Linked DNA regions of Homo sapiens: region 1 is linked to region 2. The links come from fine-mapping of genetic effects on gene expression. A gene starts in region 2. The other region holds a variant in brackets. All regions are shown on one strand. Distances are from middle to middle.

Region 1 (8,000 bases), 380 kb before region 2:
ATCTGAACTTACTAAGGTCCCTTGAAAGTAACCACAAAAAGGCTAGATCTAAAATATATTAAAATCCATATACAATTAATTGTAGAGTGATTCATATAGATACAGTCTCTATTTTGTATTGCTTCTTTTTTAAATAGTTATCTGCTAGTGAACAAAAAAATAAATATATACTTTTTGATATTTCAAATAGATATCAAAAAGTATATATTTATAGCTTTTGAAGTATAACTTTTAAACTTTATCAAATATAAAAGTATATATTCTATTTGATATATAGGTATGTGTATGTATATATGTATATTTATTTGATATATATGTATTTGAATAGAAATAGAAAGTGAATACTAGTAACCTGATGGCTAAGAACGATCACATATTTATATGTATTCATTCAACACATGCACTGTGGGTTGTATTCTGTGCCAGGAGATGAGGATGCAGGGATGAATAAATAGTATTTCTGTCCTCAAGAAGCTCATACTTTATAGTGATTTAGAGACATGTATGATGAAATTGACACTCTAATGTGAGTCTGAACAATTTTTAGGCAAGCAAATGCTCTTCATGCACTACATTCCATAACCAACCTATGCACAGCAGTAAGTGGAGTCTTTGGGGCTTGGTTTTTGTTACCACGTTTGTTACAGAATGCCATATTTGGACCTATGACAAAAAAAAAAGTAATCTTAAGTCAGGCTTGCTTATTGGAGAATAAAATAGAATCATGAGGTAGGAGATTTGGAGGGACTCTGTTACAGTCAAATAATTTTATTTTAAGGAAAGCAGATTTACTCCTTAACACTATCTTAAAATCAGGAGAAAATGTAAGAAACTTTCATAAAATATTTAATATAGTTTCAAAGTTGTGAGCGTATCACTGTTCAGAAGTTAACTGCAAAACAGAGATGACTATATTTGCCATAATTATCAATAATGATGTATATATATATATATACTCTATAGTTACACTGGGATGAGCATTAATGGATTGGTAATGAATGAACAACAGCAATGATTCAACAACATTAGTTGGCTAAAGCTTCACAAGAATAAGGAAAACACAGCAGGAACCTTATAGAGGTAAGTGAAGCATGAAATTCAGTTACGTCTTTGACCTAATAGCATTAGGTCAAAGCCTTTCAACTTTATCTCTTTACTAATTATGGAACGAACCCTGTTTAAACTCTTCATACCATATAATTCTCTAAGCAATTCTTAGTGGTAGTTATTATTATTCACATTTTAGCGATGAGAAAATTGAAATCCAGATAGATCAAGTGACTTATCTAAGATAACCCAACCAGTAAGTGGCAGAGATGGAATTTGACCTCAGCCAATCTGGGTCCTGGTCCCCACCCTTGACTCTGTATGATACAGTGTTACAACAAGAGCATGGGTAGAGATGCAATTAGAAGGTAAGAATTATATCTGCAAAATCTTGATTAGTCCTAACAATAATAATGTAGTCACTACTGTTAACCCAACTTGATGCAGGCTAATAGCTAAAGGTCATAAAGTGTCCAAAGAAAGATTTAGTAGTAAGTACAATATCCCAGGAGAATCTACCTCCAGAGTGCAAGTCGTTATACTACTCAAGTTGATATCTTCCAATGTAGGTGTCTAAAAGCCCTTTCTAGTTCTGAATTTCACTGATTCTAAAAGGGAGTTTGTGGTTAGTATAGCTGGTGGGGGTAGACTTACATTGCTGCCAAGTGCAGAAATACACTAAAGCCATGCACAGCAACTCAAGGGTCAGCATTTTTGTCCCACTTCTGGGCATCCTGAAAATCCTTTCTTCTTTGAGCTTCCTCAAAATCTTGTATAAACTGGGCTTAAACTAGGTAGATCTCAGCTGGAGGGAAAGTTCTAGCAGGCTGAGGAAGCCTAGAAAGTTTGCATTCTCTAAGCAATGTTAGCATGAACTCTTTGTACTCATTACTTCTTAGTATATGGCAGCAGCTTCAGAAAGGTGAGTCAGGAAACATTCACATTCCCAACAATTAGAATGTCACCACTCTTTGTTCATTCTTTTGAATTATAGTCAAGAAGTGTCTTATTAATTCAACACAATGCATAAATATATCTTGAGTATCTCCAATGAATCATGTACTGTTCAAGCCTCTGGCAATACAAACAATAAAAGACACTCCTACGTCTCAAGGAACTATCACTTTGGGTGACAGAGAGAGACATCTAAACAAATATACTTACAATGTTGGTAATACATTCATGGAGGCACATGGGAAGGACCCAGAAGCAGAGGAGGTTCACTGTGCTTGGATGCAGATAGCAGGAGTTAATATGGAAGAAGTCAAGAATGTCTTCCCAGAGATGGTGAAAAACAAAATGAGTTTTGAAGATATGATGGGAAAATACACTGATTTTTAGATATAGCTCTAGATAAAAATAAAGAGACAAAGTGTTACAGGTAAAATTAGCTGCAGATACATCTTAGTTGTCATGTAGTTGATCCAATTGAGTGAACAATTGAACAACAATTAGAACACAAACAAACCTCCATGATCTGAGGCCTGCTGAACTCTCTTTTCTGACAGCCCTTCCCACTGCACATTGGATATAGAATGATGCCATGGCATTCCATGCATCCATGCCTTTGAACACACTATCTCCTCTGCTTGAATGACCTTTGCTGCTTATGTAGAAGGAAAAAACAGTTACATTCATACCTAAGGTTCCAGAGCTTCCAAGACCTTGTCAAAGAAAATAGACTCCTAGCTTTTCTCTACTGAATGCAATCTCCGTTATCAGGCCATAAGCTCCTTAGGAGCTAGCGCTAGATCTGAGTGAACACTGCCAGTAGTGTGATGAATTTGGCTTTTATAGGCTCAAAAGAAATATTGTTAAATGTACAACATTTTTTGAGCCATTTGTTAAATTTTTGGCAGCTTGAAGTCATCTATGGTGGGAGCTGACAAACACTACATTAAAAAAAGATCAAAAAATTTGTTGGATAAATTACATTAGAGTAATTTTTAAAGTCACATATTCAAGTTGTAGTGATTTAAATTAAATAAAGTTAGTGCAGATTATAAGAATTGATGAGTATTGAATTGATGAGTATTGGAAAAGGGGATGAGTGGAGACACCTCTCTGAGCAGTGTGAGTTTTGAAAAGGAAATCAAATTATTAGAGAAGATAATGGTAGCCAAAAAGACTTTCTAAGGATCAGTGTTCTCATAATTAAAAAAAAGAAGGCATAAGAATTTCTGCCAAACATACTTTTTCAAAAATAAAAAAGATATATGAAAATGTTTTATAAACCATGTAGTACATAACTATATAATATATACATTATATAGTGTATAGTTGCAATTATTGGACTAAAAGCAGTTAATACAGGCTTTACATATGTTAAGACTTTTATTCAGAAGTAAATGAAATGTACTCTTTGAGAATGGGTATATTTTATTGTTTTTTATAACCATATTCTCATTTATTTTTGAAACTCTTCTTAGAATAAGAAAAGAGTACAGGAAGACCAACAAGTCACATTCAAACCTTATAATTCTGCAGCCTAGGAAACACTGTCTTGTGCTGGAAATGGCTTCCTTTCTTCCTGGTCCAACTTTTTTGAACTGCCCATGGATTTTGCACTGTACAAATCA[C/T]AATCCTTAGAAATATATTACCCACATACATTTCTGAAGAGGGTTTTCAGGGCCCTTTTTTGAGTATTACTTTTGGATATATTATTCCTACTAAATTATATTTCTTCCAGAAAAAGTTTTGAAAAGTTGGCAACCTCCCTATTTCAGTCCTTCATATTATGCCACTTGTTACAGTCATAAACAGCAAGGAAAGAAGGAAGTTTGACCAAATGCAAATGGCTGGGAAGAAGTAGCCCTTTCAGAGTTGCTGAATGTCTCGTGTGAAAATGCTTTGTGGCTGAGCTTAAGAAATAAATATAAAGTAGTATTTAAATCCTCATCTCAAAGCTTCTATCAGTAATAGATATGAAGCCCAAAGCAGTAAATGTTTAAATGACTACTTTACATCTCTTAAATGCAGTGTTATGTCCTGGCTATATGGTAATGACATCATTAAACAGAAATCCTTTGAGCCGCAGAACCAAGATGCTTTATAGTAAGTTCTATGAAGTTACATAGTCAAAGAGTTCACTGTTCTTTAAGTTAGACTCATATCCGCAATTTTATGACAGGTTCTGCTTAAATAATTGTAGGGTAGTGGTAAAGCATGGACTTTAGGGTCAATAATCTGAAGATCTAAATTTGAATTTGTCGTGTCTTTCATTAGTTAGCTGACATTCTGGATTTCAGTTTCAAGACCTTTAAAATGGGAATAATAGCAATCATCTTAAACATGTCCAAGAAAGAGTGAGACAATTAAATAAATACATTACTAAGAAGGGCTATAAATGAAATGTTATTATAGGTATTAGCATCATCATTATCATTCATTACCCTAATCATTATCATCTTTAAGCAATATTAAGGGATGACACTTACAGATAGACTGAGTCTTACTCTCTGGGTCAAGAAGGTTATTTCAAAATGCAAGTTACTAAAGTATATTATATATGCAAAACATTTGGCTTATTAAAACTCAAGTGTCATGGCTCATAGCCGAGACCTGCACTTTCATATAAATGTGATTTGATCATATGTATCATATTCAAAAATATCTATTAGTCCTATAACGTTAGCCACAGTGGCTAATTTCTATAATAGCTTCACATTTTAGTTACTTACCAACATAAATATTTATTTCTTATTTATGTTACAGTAAACTTAAGTTTGCTTGGGTGGAAGGTTGTCTCTTTTTCACGCAATTATTTAGAGTTCCAGGCTTCATCCATCTAATGGCTTTGTTAAAGTCTAGAGTCTTGGAGTGTACCACTGACTCCGTTAATCTGACCGGCAGATAAAATAGTAAAGAAATCATGGAAGCTTGCAAGGAAAGTACATGAACCAGGCCTGGAAGTGGTATATACCACTTCCATGAAAAATCCTACTGGTTTAAAATCGGTCGCATGACTGCACCTAATTGCAAAGGAAGCCAGAAAATGTAGTCCACCTATATGCTCTGATGGAAGATAAAATGGATTTGATGAGTCTTGCCAGCCTCTGCCATAGGGTTCTAGCATATTACAATAAATTATGAATTTAATTGACCGAAAGACAAAGCGCAACTTAATGGTGTCACAATCCCATGTTAGTTATAAAAAATAATGTATAATCTATTCTCCCCTTTATGGTTACTGTAAAAATTAGTAGCACCCTAGTTAATTCAATGCCAGAAAGCAGCTGTCTTGAGAGTTCATGGTCTTAAGCTTTACATGCCTGGGCTCTATTTTTGGTCCAGTGGAGTTGGTACCTCTGGGGCCTGAGTAATCCCGTGTTGCAGCAGACAGAGTTCCTCTGCTGCAGTCAGGCCTTCTCATCAGTGTATACCCCTGTGAAACTTCCAGACTACACAGAATAACCTGGCTTTCTCTCCTGGATGTGGATGTGGACACTAAATGCTCTTCATCTGAACGAAGAGGTTTGTGTTTCATAAAGATTAAGCTAACTATGAGGAAAAAACAGGCAACCAGACTCTTCTGAGATTTTCTGTCTGCATATAGACATCAATATAAACATAGGTATATGTTTGTTCAGTATGGCTTTTATTATTAACAGAACAAGAGCCAGCTCCCTGAGAGCTACCCAAGGTCCTAAACCACCTCTGATCAAAGTTATCTCATATCTAGGGTAGCAGAGGACTCCTGATTTTTCAGAGGACCTATTCCCGTCATATCTTATAAAATGTAATGATTGACTTCTTACATACAAGCTGCTAATTTTGATATGGTCTAAGCTGATATCAGTTTACGCTGAGGACTTTTTCATATCCCAACATAACTTGACCTTTCATCCCATTTGATTGCATGGTCTGTTCATGACCAGCCCTGACCTGTGATAACCCTCCTTTATAATATTCTGGTGTTAAGGATGCCCAACCTTGCGCTAAAGTAACCTGATAGACCCAGAAATGCTGCCAGTACAGCTATTTTATCAGGTGGGATTTAGATATTTATGCTTCTGTGATCATGTTTATCAAAAATTCCAAAAACATTTTCTCATGAGGATAACATAAGAAAGGAGGGAAGGGGCTGAGCACGGTGGCTCACGCCTGTCATCCCAGCACTTTGGGAGGCCAAGGCGGGCGGATCACGAGGTCAGGAGATCGAGACCATCCTGGCTAACATGGTGAAACCCCATCTCTACTAAAAATACAAAAAATAAGCCGGGTGTGGTGGTGGTCGCCTGTAGTCCCAGCTACTCGGGAGGCTGAGGCAGGAGAATGGTGTGAACCCGGGAGGCGTAGCTTGCAGTGAGCCGAGATTGCACCACTGCACTCCAGCCTGGGTGACAAAGCGAGACTGCGTCTCAAAAAAGAAAGGAGGGAAAGGAGGGAAGGAAAAGAGGGATGATTGATTTTCCCTGCCTTACTCACAGGATCAAATATGATAATGCAGACAAAACTGTTGTGATGATATAGAGTATTTTTGTCATCTAACTCATCTAACTCCATCAAATAATAGGATAGCTTGGTTTTGAGAAAACAAGTGACAAATTATCATACTTATTTTTCTCATGAAATATCCTTCATGTGTGATCTTTATATTCTTTGGAAAATCTAAAAGACTTACAGTTAGTCAAAGTAAGCACCAACCTAAGTTCCAATCTAATTTCAGAAGTCTGAATCATTATTTTAATTCTTTAGGGTACTGGAAGGAATTTAGGTTCAAGATAGCTGTGAACAATGTGTTTATATAGTAAAACAAGATTTATTTATTTGTTATCACTAAATTCCATTTAAATTTTACAATAGCTATTATTACAATAACACACTATTAAATTACAACTGCATTTATGTAGATACAACATTCCTCAAAAATGTTGTTTGGTATTTAAAGGGCATTATTATGATTATCAGAAAGAAATTTTGTTAAATTGCATTTAAGATATCTTAAATGTTTATCTAGTTGATTGGTTGATTTATTGACATGAGTAGAATATTTTAAATTAGTAGGCTACCTAGTTAAATTAATGAATTTTTATCTTTAGTATCATGAATGAAAATGTTGCACATGTTGAGAATGAATATGAGACAGTCTTTAAGTCAAGAGCATTACAATCTGATTGGGAAGATTATTCTATTGAATATCATTTGTCAGTTACTGTGAATAGAATGGTGAATGAGACATTTAATTTGCATGTACTTGTCATATCTTTCCTACTAGGATATAAGCTTCAAGTTTCAGAAGATGAGAAATGTGTTTAACATCTCCCTCTCTCTCTTTTTGTACAGCTCTTGATTGTCACAAAGTCCGATGTGCTTGTAGTTAGCAAAAATAGTTGGATAAGATAAATAAATGAATGAATAAATACACAATAACATTTTGTAGAGAGGATGTAATAGATCCTAGGAACTTCCATTTAACCTGTGAAATCTCTCCACACATACAGTTCAGAGGCAAAATGTTCTGGTTTTCTAAATCCTCGTGATCACATCACTGTTGTCAGTTTGCCTTAAAGAAAAAGTTGGAAAAGCTCATAGAGGCTAGTTGCTTTTAGCTGTGAATCTCCAAATACTTGAACATTTCAGAATGAAGCCAAACACTGTTTAAAATATCAGCAAGTGGTTATCCATGGATGGTGGGATTCACGGCTTAATGTTTGTTTATGTTTTCATTTATTTATTATTCTTTTGCAGAGGGGCACAGATAGATCCATTATTTGTGACACATGGTACAGGCATTTGAAAAGATTCATTGATAGCAACATCACAGCAAGTAATACAGAAGTCCATATTGTTTTTCCATCAAGAGTTATGCTGAAACTAGCAGAGCTTATGCTATGAAAAGCCCCCTGGTAGAGAACCTCTTCACCCTAACAGCCTACATATGTGGGAAAGGGAAGCAGGGCATATCTAGATGAGTATATAATTGGGGGAGCATCTTGAGAAAGACAATGATC
Region 2 (8,000 bases):
TACTGGTTAGAGCTTCTAAAATGTAGCTTGTTTATGAGGATTGCTCAGCATACTGGTTTTCTGTCCAGGGACATGATGTGCATTTTGGGGAATTCAAAACCCGATTGAGGTGAGTAGAGGTCATTCATAAATCGAAACCAAATGATAGCAGAAGATATGAACTAAAGCTATTTCTTTATCTGCAAAGAGCTAATTGGGCATATTTCAGGCCAAGTCTCTGAAGACACAGCTCGTGAACTCTGTCTTCTTGATGCTGTGCTCATTATAGACACTCAACAGAGGACTGGCTAATGCTAGGGAAATCCCCATCAAGGTGGTCTTTACATGACACTGCAGATTTACCTCAGGAAGGGGAGCAAAGAGAAGGAAAATGCAGTGAGGGTTTCTAGCAACTAGCTGCTTGTGGAGTACTGTTTGCCTTGTCTAATTTATCTGAAACTGAAGAGTTTGTCTCTAAAGGGTATCCTACTTCAGAAAATCTCAAGGGACATTTGTCTTTCTGACATATCAGCTGTTAGCTAGACCTTATTTCTTACTTGGTTGTTTTTAGAGTAAATTTTGGTTCTTTGGTCCTTTGTCTGCTATTTGAGGTGGAGGATTAAATACTGCATAGATGACCTATGTATGTATAGAACAACCTAATTTTGCCACAGATACCAAAACACTATAACGATAATCTTCAATTAATCCAATTATTATCTAAATTTCATAACCCGTCCTCAATTATCTACCTTAATATTTCTAGGTAAAGAGAGATGTACTGCATTGACTTCCTGTTTTTAAAGGGTAAAACAGCAAGAGAAAGAAAGACATTGTAGATATTCACAATGTTGTATGTGAGGAAGTTTTTGAATGGCTTCAGAAACCCAAATGAATATATTGAGAAAGCAGCATTGTGAGTTCTGTCTACATGTGAACCCAAAACTAGGATTTGAGGTAATCCATTTTCAGAAAGAAGTGATGGAGTTTGAATTCTAGGAAATCTTCCTGAATAAAATGGCCATGTGTTGTAAAGTTTAGATATTTATAACCCAAAATAGAAGGAATTTTGCTAGGTGATCTCTCCAGTTCCTTTTCAGTTATGAGAGTCTGATTTCTTCCCATGAAAAGTGTAGAAAAACTTCCTTTACTGTTATATGAATGTTATAAAATGTATGCTTGTCCATGAATTAGCTGATCAAAGATAATACATGAAAAAGTATTCAAAATACTCTGTGAATCTTTTTTTTAAAAAACTCTCTTTAAATAGATTTTTGTATTCAGAAGTTATGCTTTGTAAATACATTTTAAATTTCAGATTTAAACATTATCAAGACAAAATTGTGACTATGTGCATGTAAAACTAGAGAGCACTGGAAAATATGGTGGATGGTAAGGGCCTTTTGCAAGGTAATTAACTTATCTATTGAGTTTTTTTTTTTTAATTTCTAAGTACTTAATTGACTCTCCCACTAAAATTTAAACATATACAAATAATTTTTCATTCAGAAGATAGGCATTTGATTTATAACATCAACATATCATCACAAAAACTTAGAGAATGAGAATATCTTAATGGGCACCTGGTCTAAACATTTTAATTTTACCAGGTAAAAAGGTGGAAGTGGCATGGCATGGTGGCTCATGTCTGTAATCCCAGCACTCTGGGAGGCCGGGGTGGGCGGATAACTAGGTCAGGAGATCGAGACAATGCCGGCTAACACGGTGAAACCCCGTCTCCACTAAAAATGCAAAAAATTAGCTTGGTGTGGTGGCGCGCGCCTGTAGTCCCAGCTACTTGGGAGGCTGAGGCAGGAGAATGTTTCTTTAAAAATAACATCATTAGAAACCATACAAAACAGAACTGCAAATACTCCCTTCTAAGGTGTAAGGTATTCCAACATTTCTTGTTTGGACGTTAGAATTTTTTCTTCAGTAAGAAATTAAGTTGAAAATGAAGTAGAACATCTTACACTGTAATTCAAGTGCAATACATTAAAAAAATAAAAACAGTGTTTAAATTGGGAAAATCCGTTTACATGTGATTAAGTTTTAATCAGTGCCCTTAACCCAGATCTCAACAGCTAAAAATGTTCTTAGCTTGACAAAATAACAACCCATCCCCAAGGACAAATACTTAAATCAAAGAAGCATTTTATAAATAAAAAAATTCACGCACACATACACACACAGACCCCCACAATACATGAAACATATAATAATGTTTGTCTTTATTTGTAATGAAGTGGATTTTATACTGAATTCAGAACACAGATGCAAATTCAACAGTTGAACTCAATCAAATAAGTAATCTTATATAAAAGGATATCTCCCTCCAGCATGTACTTATCCTGTGTGACAGATATCTCTGTAATAAAGTAAATTCCTTCAACTCAAGCAGATTGTCCGAAATGGAAACACAATGAAAGGATGAATATACTCAAATAATCAACAGAAGAGCAAAATATAAAAATGCGAACATTTTCTGAATAATGCAGATGCCCTCCCTCCAAAAGAATTACATGTGAGGGAATATCTATATTGTCATAATTACTGGATAAGCTGCCCAATAGCTATTACACTAATGTTTCATTAAAAATATATATTTGCTTTATGCTTTTGCAACTTGCAAAGTTATTCCTAGCAAAAAGTTATTTCTCCTGAAACAGAATAAATAGGTCTTTCACAATATGCACTGGAATACATATTTTTGAAAAACAAGATCTCCACTCACCTCTAATTCTATCTTTCTGCTGGTGATTACTGATATATTTATTTTAAAATACATACTTTATAGGAAGTATCGTTACAATTAATATTTAGGACAACATTATAATTCGTGTTTTAGAAACTACTAAGGCAAGAGGACAGCTCCTACCATTCTACAAAAGTCTTTCAGTTAAGAAGTGACTAATTAATGGACTGAGTGGCTCAGAGCAGGGAGCCAGTCCTTAGCCAATAAAGCCCAACTCACTGCCACCCCACTGCCCCATATTCTCTGTCCTCTCTGCTGGAACTGTCTTGTGCTGAATACATGAACACCTAAATATTCAACTCACTCCTGCCATTTCTCCGGTAAGCAATCTTCCACAACCTGTGCCTGAGACTTGGAGGCTGTTTGTGGTCCACAGGCTTTAGGCGCCCTAGGGAAAGCCACGTGCACTAGTGCATCTGGATGAACTGTGGACTTTGTCTATCCGCGGTAATTCAACTTCCTAAGAGCTACATTGACTCATTGATTTGTATCCAGGCTCCGGGCTCCCAATTCCCACACAACGTAAGCTCCCTGCAGCCAGGGGATTTGGTAGGTTTGCCGTGTTGTTTAGTTTCTCTCCCCTGCGACCCTCTCTCTGAGCCTCACAGTGTGTTTGGCACGTGGTAGGTGCTCGGTAAACCTACTTTGAATGGGAGAGGGTTGTGTTGAAGAAAGGAAAGGCTGGGAGGACTTAAGATTTGAAGGTTTTCCTACACGTGTCCAGGAAGAAAGAAAAAGAAAAAAGAAATGAGTATCAGAGTCTTATCATCATTACAGTTCTTATGGTTTTTAACCGACCTTTAGGAGTTCCACCGACGTGACCCAAGCAGCTGGTAGGAGAATCTGGGCTGGATTCGGAAGGCGCAGCTACAGGACGCCCGCTGCCCCGGATCGGAAGGCGCAGCACCTCAGGCCACAATCTCAGACACGCCCTCGGGTCCCGACAGGTGTTGCCCGCCTCCCACGGGGCTCCGGGACCCCGGTCCCCGGGCTGCCCCCTGCCTTCTGGGGCGCTGGAGCGCGCGCAGTGGCGGAGCTGGAGCCACCCAGTGCTTCGCACGGGCGCGCTCCGCTTCTCCGGGTTTTAGCGGAAGCCTGCGGGGGGCGGGGTAACCGCGGAAGCCGGCGGCCGTGGGCGCGCGGGTTGGGGGCTCTCGCGCCGCTCCGGGCTCTCCCCCCCCCCGGCTGCGGTTGCCGAAGAGAGGCCGGAGCGCGGCGCCCGGCTGCTCCACCTGGCGCGCTGAGCACCGCGCGGGGAGCCCCCGGGGGCGGGCGGTGGGGGGCGCGGACTGCGGGAAGAAGGCACGAGGCGTCGCCGCAGCTCGGTCAGGGGCCGGGGCCCCGCCGCTCGCCGCTGCACTAACTTGCCGCTTGGTCTCGCCTCGCCGCCGCGGCTCGCTGCGCTTTGGGTGGCGGGGGGCGGGGAGAGCGGGGAGTCAGAGGGTCTGCGGTGGCCGAGGGAGGGACCCTACGACGGGGAGCCCGCCCGGTGCCGCTCTTCTTCCCCTCCCCGCCCCTCCGCTCCCCCCACCCCGTCCCTTCCGCCGATTCCGGGAGCGACGGGCGCCCGTGACCTGCGAACGCTGCCAAGTGACGGTCCCCGAGTCTGAAGCGCCCGCGAGGAAGCGAGCGCCAGCGCGGGCCGCCGGCGATGACGGCCGCGAAGCAGGAGCCGCAGCCCACCCCGGGGGCCAGGGCGAGCCAGGCGCAGCCGGCGGACCAGGTGAGAGTCGGCAGCCGCGGCCAGGCCCTCCCGGGAGGGGTGGCTCCAGTGCGCGCTCCGCCCGCCTCCCGCTTCCCAGGCTGGGCTCCCGCGCCTCCCTCTTCTCACCCTCCCCCGCCCCGCCCCAGTTCCAGGCTCTCCTGCTTCTCCACGGACTCTGCGGGAAGTTAGAGCCTCTGCGTGCGCTCCGGGGCCCGGCGAGAGGATGCGCAAGGTGGAGAGCCGCGGGGAAGGGGGCAGAGAGGTAAAGGCTGAAGGTGCCCCGGGGAACCCCGGCGGGCGGCCCACCGAGGGAGGGAGAGGCGGCCGGGACCAAGGAATGGGGCCTCTTGGTTCCCCATTAACGCACGCTGAAGAAATCTGCTGCGCTCCTGACGGCCGCTCACCGGGTTCGAGCCCCGTCCTCCTATAGCCGGGGCGCTCGCTGGCCAAAGCGACCCGAGCAGGCGAATGACCTTTAGGCGGACGGGGTTTTCCCTCTGCTTTCTTGTTTCTTTTGAGGAGACGGGTGTGTGTTTGTGAGGTGGGGATGGGGGAAGAGTGTCCCAGACATCCGTAGTCTGCTGAGCGGAACGGAGCTTGGGGAGCGGCGAGGCATTAACGATTAAGTGGAGCCGGGAAGGCGCTGGCTTTGGTGATGTGTTGGGTTTGGATGTGTCGCGTCTGCACAGATGAGGTGCCCTGCGTGGGCTGAGGGTTATTCCTGTCTCTTTCCCGTCCGTCTACACCCGCCAACCCCTTTTTGTTTTGGTCTTTAGAAATCTGTAGCATAACCGTACCGTCGTGGATCCCCATCTCGTCTCTGTCCCTGATCTGGGGTGATTTGGGACTTCGGTGTCGCTCTTTTTCCAAAGTTGGAGGGTCGGGAGCGCCGAGACACCCTGGCGAGGAGGAGGAGGAGGAGGAGGGAGGCTGCGCTGAGCCGGGTGCAGGTGCGCTCACGTTTGCATCAATTAGGAACTCCGGGCAGAGAGAGCTGCACTTAGGTCAGGGATTAACTGTGGACCCGCGGGACCCAAGCGCTGGGGTAGGAGGACTGGGGATCTTTGTTCGGAGTGCGCTGCGAAGGCTGCTGGAGGCGGACACCCTCCCAGCTTATTGCTAGCGTGGGATAGAGGGAGCGCACGCGGCTAGGCTCCAGCAGCGACTCGGCTTTTCGCGTATTCTAAGCACTGAAGAGCCTCTTAAGGGGAGCTGTCCAAATCGCCCAGGAGTGGTGGCGAGACACAGGAGGCCATGCCAGCGATGCTGTTATTAATATTGCAGACTTGGTCATCTCTCCTGGCTTGCGGTTTCTTTTCTCCTCTTCCCTCCCCTTCTCTTTTCTCTCACATGTGTTTCACACAGGTGGTGGGGATTACTCAATGACTTACAGCTCCCTTCTCGTTTATTAGTGGGAGGGGGTTGAATGTTGGCAGTTCTTACAAAGCATTTGTTTTCTTAAACGATCCTGTTTGATCCATACTCTGAGATAAGTATGAAAATATTAAAACATCATACGTTCCTTCCTTTTATACCCCTTCCTCCTAATCCCCAGCACACATCAGAATGTAAACATTGGTTAGCAGATATAGAAAAATAATTTCAGAACGGGAACATGGATTGAACATCCTCTTTCAGGCTGACAGCCCTTAAATTTCATTAACAAGCCGCCGAGCCTCTCTACTGCTCTGGGAATGATGCTACCAGTAAGAAAGATTAGCCAGGTGAGAGTCCCCACATGAAATCTTTGCTCACTAACCTGTGACACCAGCTGGTTACTTGAGGCGCTGCAAACAGTTCAGTGATGGTGGAAGTGGGATGCAGAAGCAGAGCAGAGCAGAGCACACAGGAGCTGAAAATGTATGTGTAGATAGTGGACACGCTGTCTATACACAACAAATCCCCTTGTCAGGATTAATCTGGTACTTAAAATTCATATGAAGAGATAGGTGCAAGCTCGAATCCATTTTTCTTGTTAGTGTGCATTTTTTAATAGCCACTTCAAATATTCAGGGAGTGGCTACTTTGCAGAACTCTTGTTTTAATAGAGTATTTTAAGTGCCTTTCTGAGTATTGACATGATTTGAAAATGTCAGTTTTATGAATCTTATGCATGTGTTCTAATAGATTGATTTTACAAAGAAAGTCAACTGAAATATACACATGGCACCTCGCAGTGAGGGTGTTTCAAGCACTCCCAGGAAATACTCATATCTAGCATATTTTTGTTCAAAGCTTGACATATGAAACGATGGAAAAAGAATGTGAATGATTTTTGTGACAGCTTAAACTACTTTCCGTAAGACTACTAAGCTTTTATTAGCCATATTAGTCATTATGGTTTAATTCTGCAATTGCCACACAACTCTCGTGCAATACTAGATATAATATAGCTTCATAAAGATGTGATTAGTTGTGTGTTTTCTATAATATTTCATAAAAAAGATTCATAAATTTAAATTAAAATGTACCTTTATGAAATTTTACCTAGTGGTTAAATAGGGCACATGTTCCAACAAATCAATCACTATGCATTGATTTTGAATGATTTAAGCTATTGCATGTTTCCAAGAATGTCTTCTAGTTTCTATGGTGAAGATTTTTATGAAACCTCAAAGATGCCTTGTCCTGAGGCCATCAAACACCTATTTCCACTTATAGCACAGTGGAAGACCATAATCCTTCCTGTAACTGAAAATGGTTATGAACCATATAATTTGGTTACAGTTACAGTCCTGTAGAGGGCTCAACCTTCCTCTTTTATTTGATCTGTTAGTGTCCTCTGGCACAGGGTGCCATGACAAGAGGACATGCCCTCCCTCCCTAGAGAATGGTGACAACAAGAATAGGAGGGACCGTGTAGGGACCGTGTATTTTATGAATATTCTGAATCATTGGAAATATTTTTATCATCTTAGTAATCTTTCTTTTAAAGATTCTTTGATTACAAAATATTTATGACAGTTATTTTTGTTGCTTTCACAACACTCCACATTTACAAAATATCTAAAAACAAATGCCTTGACATGACTAGACACAATCATTTCTTAACATGATCAATATCTCAATTAACATTGAAAGAGCTAAGAACTCTAGTGGCTAATTGTAATTTATTATTATTTTTAAAAATCACTTCCTGAATGCTTGCCACAGGCAGAGTACTATTCTTAGGGTTCATAAAGTAACATTTCTTGAATGTATTTTTCTATTTGATTCTCAAAGCAGTTTTTTGAGGTGAGTCCTGTTTTTATTCCTATTTTAGAGATGAGAATACAGAGGATTAAGGAAGTTATTGTGGAAGTGAGACTTAGCCAGGAACTCATGGAGGTCTGAAGCCTCAACTTTTAACTTCTATACAATCATGATACAACATATTTCTATTGTAAGAATGAAAATAATTGCAAATTATATGTGTATGTGTGCACATGTGCACAAATTTACCTTGAATATAAAACAAATGAATAATTTGTTTAAAGCTTCAACTATACAAGTAAATCACAGCTCTGCTAATTTTAGTTAATATCACGCTACTGATCTAAATAATATAAAAGAACAAGATAG

Direction of the effects. Positions count from the first base shown, and alleles are read on the strand shown. Sizes are in standard deviations (SD) of each study's normalised expression.
In carriers of allele T in region 1, the expression in esophagus muscle of the gene that starts at base 3,772 in region 2 tends to be lower than with C alone (moderate effect, 0.43 SD a copy in GTEx).

Evidence for each region.
Region 1: its variant is fine-mapped to the expression of DPP10-AS1 in esophagus muscle (GTEx, PIP 0.90).

What each region holds. Positions count from the first base shown.
Region 1 is chr2:114,773,727-114,781,726 of GRCh38, forward strand. All of the region lies in intron 1 of DPP10 (dipeptidyl peptidase like 10), which reads left to right. Among named protein-coding and RNA genes, the nearest start is that of DPP10-AS3, 56 kb to the right of the region's middle. The variant C/T (reference allele first, on the strand shown) is at 3,627.
Region 2 is chr2:115,157,572-115,165,571 of GRCh38, forward strand. It overlaps DPP10-AS1 (DPP10 antisense RNA 1), which reads right to left and starts at 3,772. Exons shown (of 3, transcript NR_036580.1): 1 at 3,533-3,772. All of the region lies in intron 1 of DPP10 (dipeptidyl peptidase like 10), which reads left to right.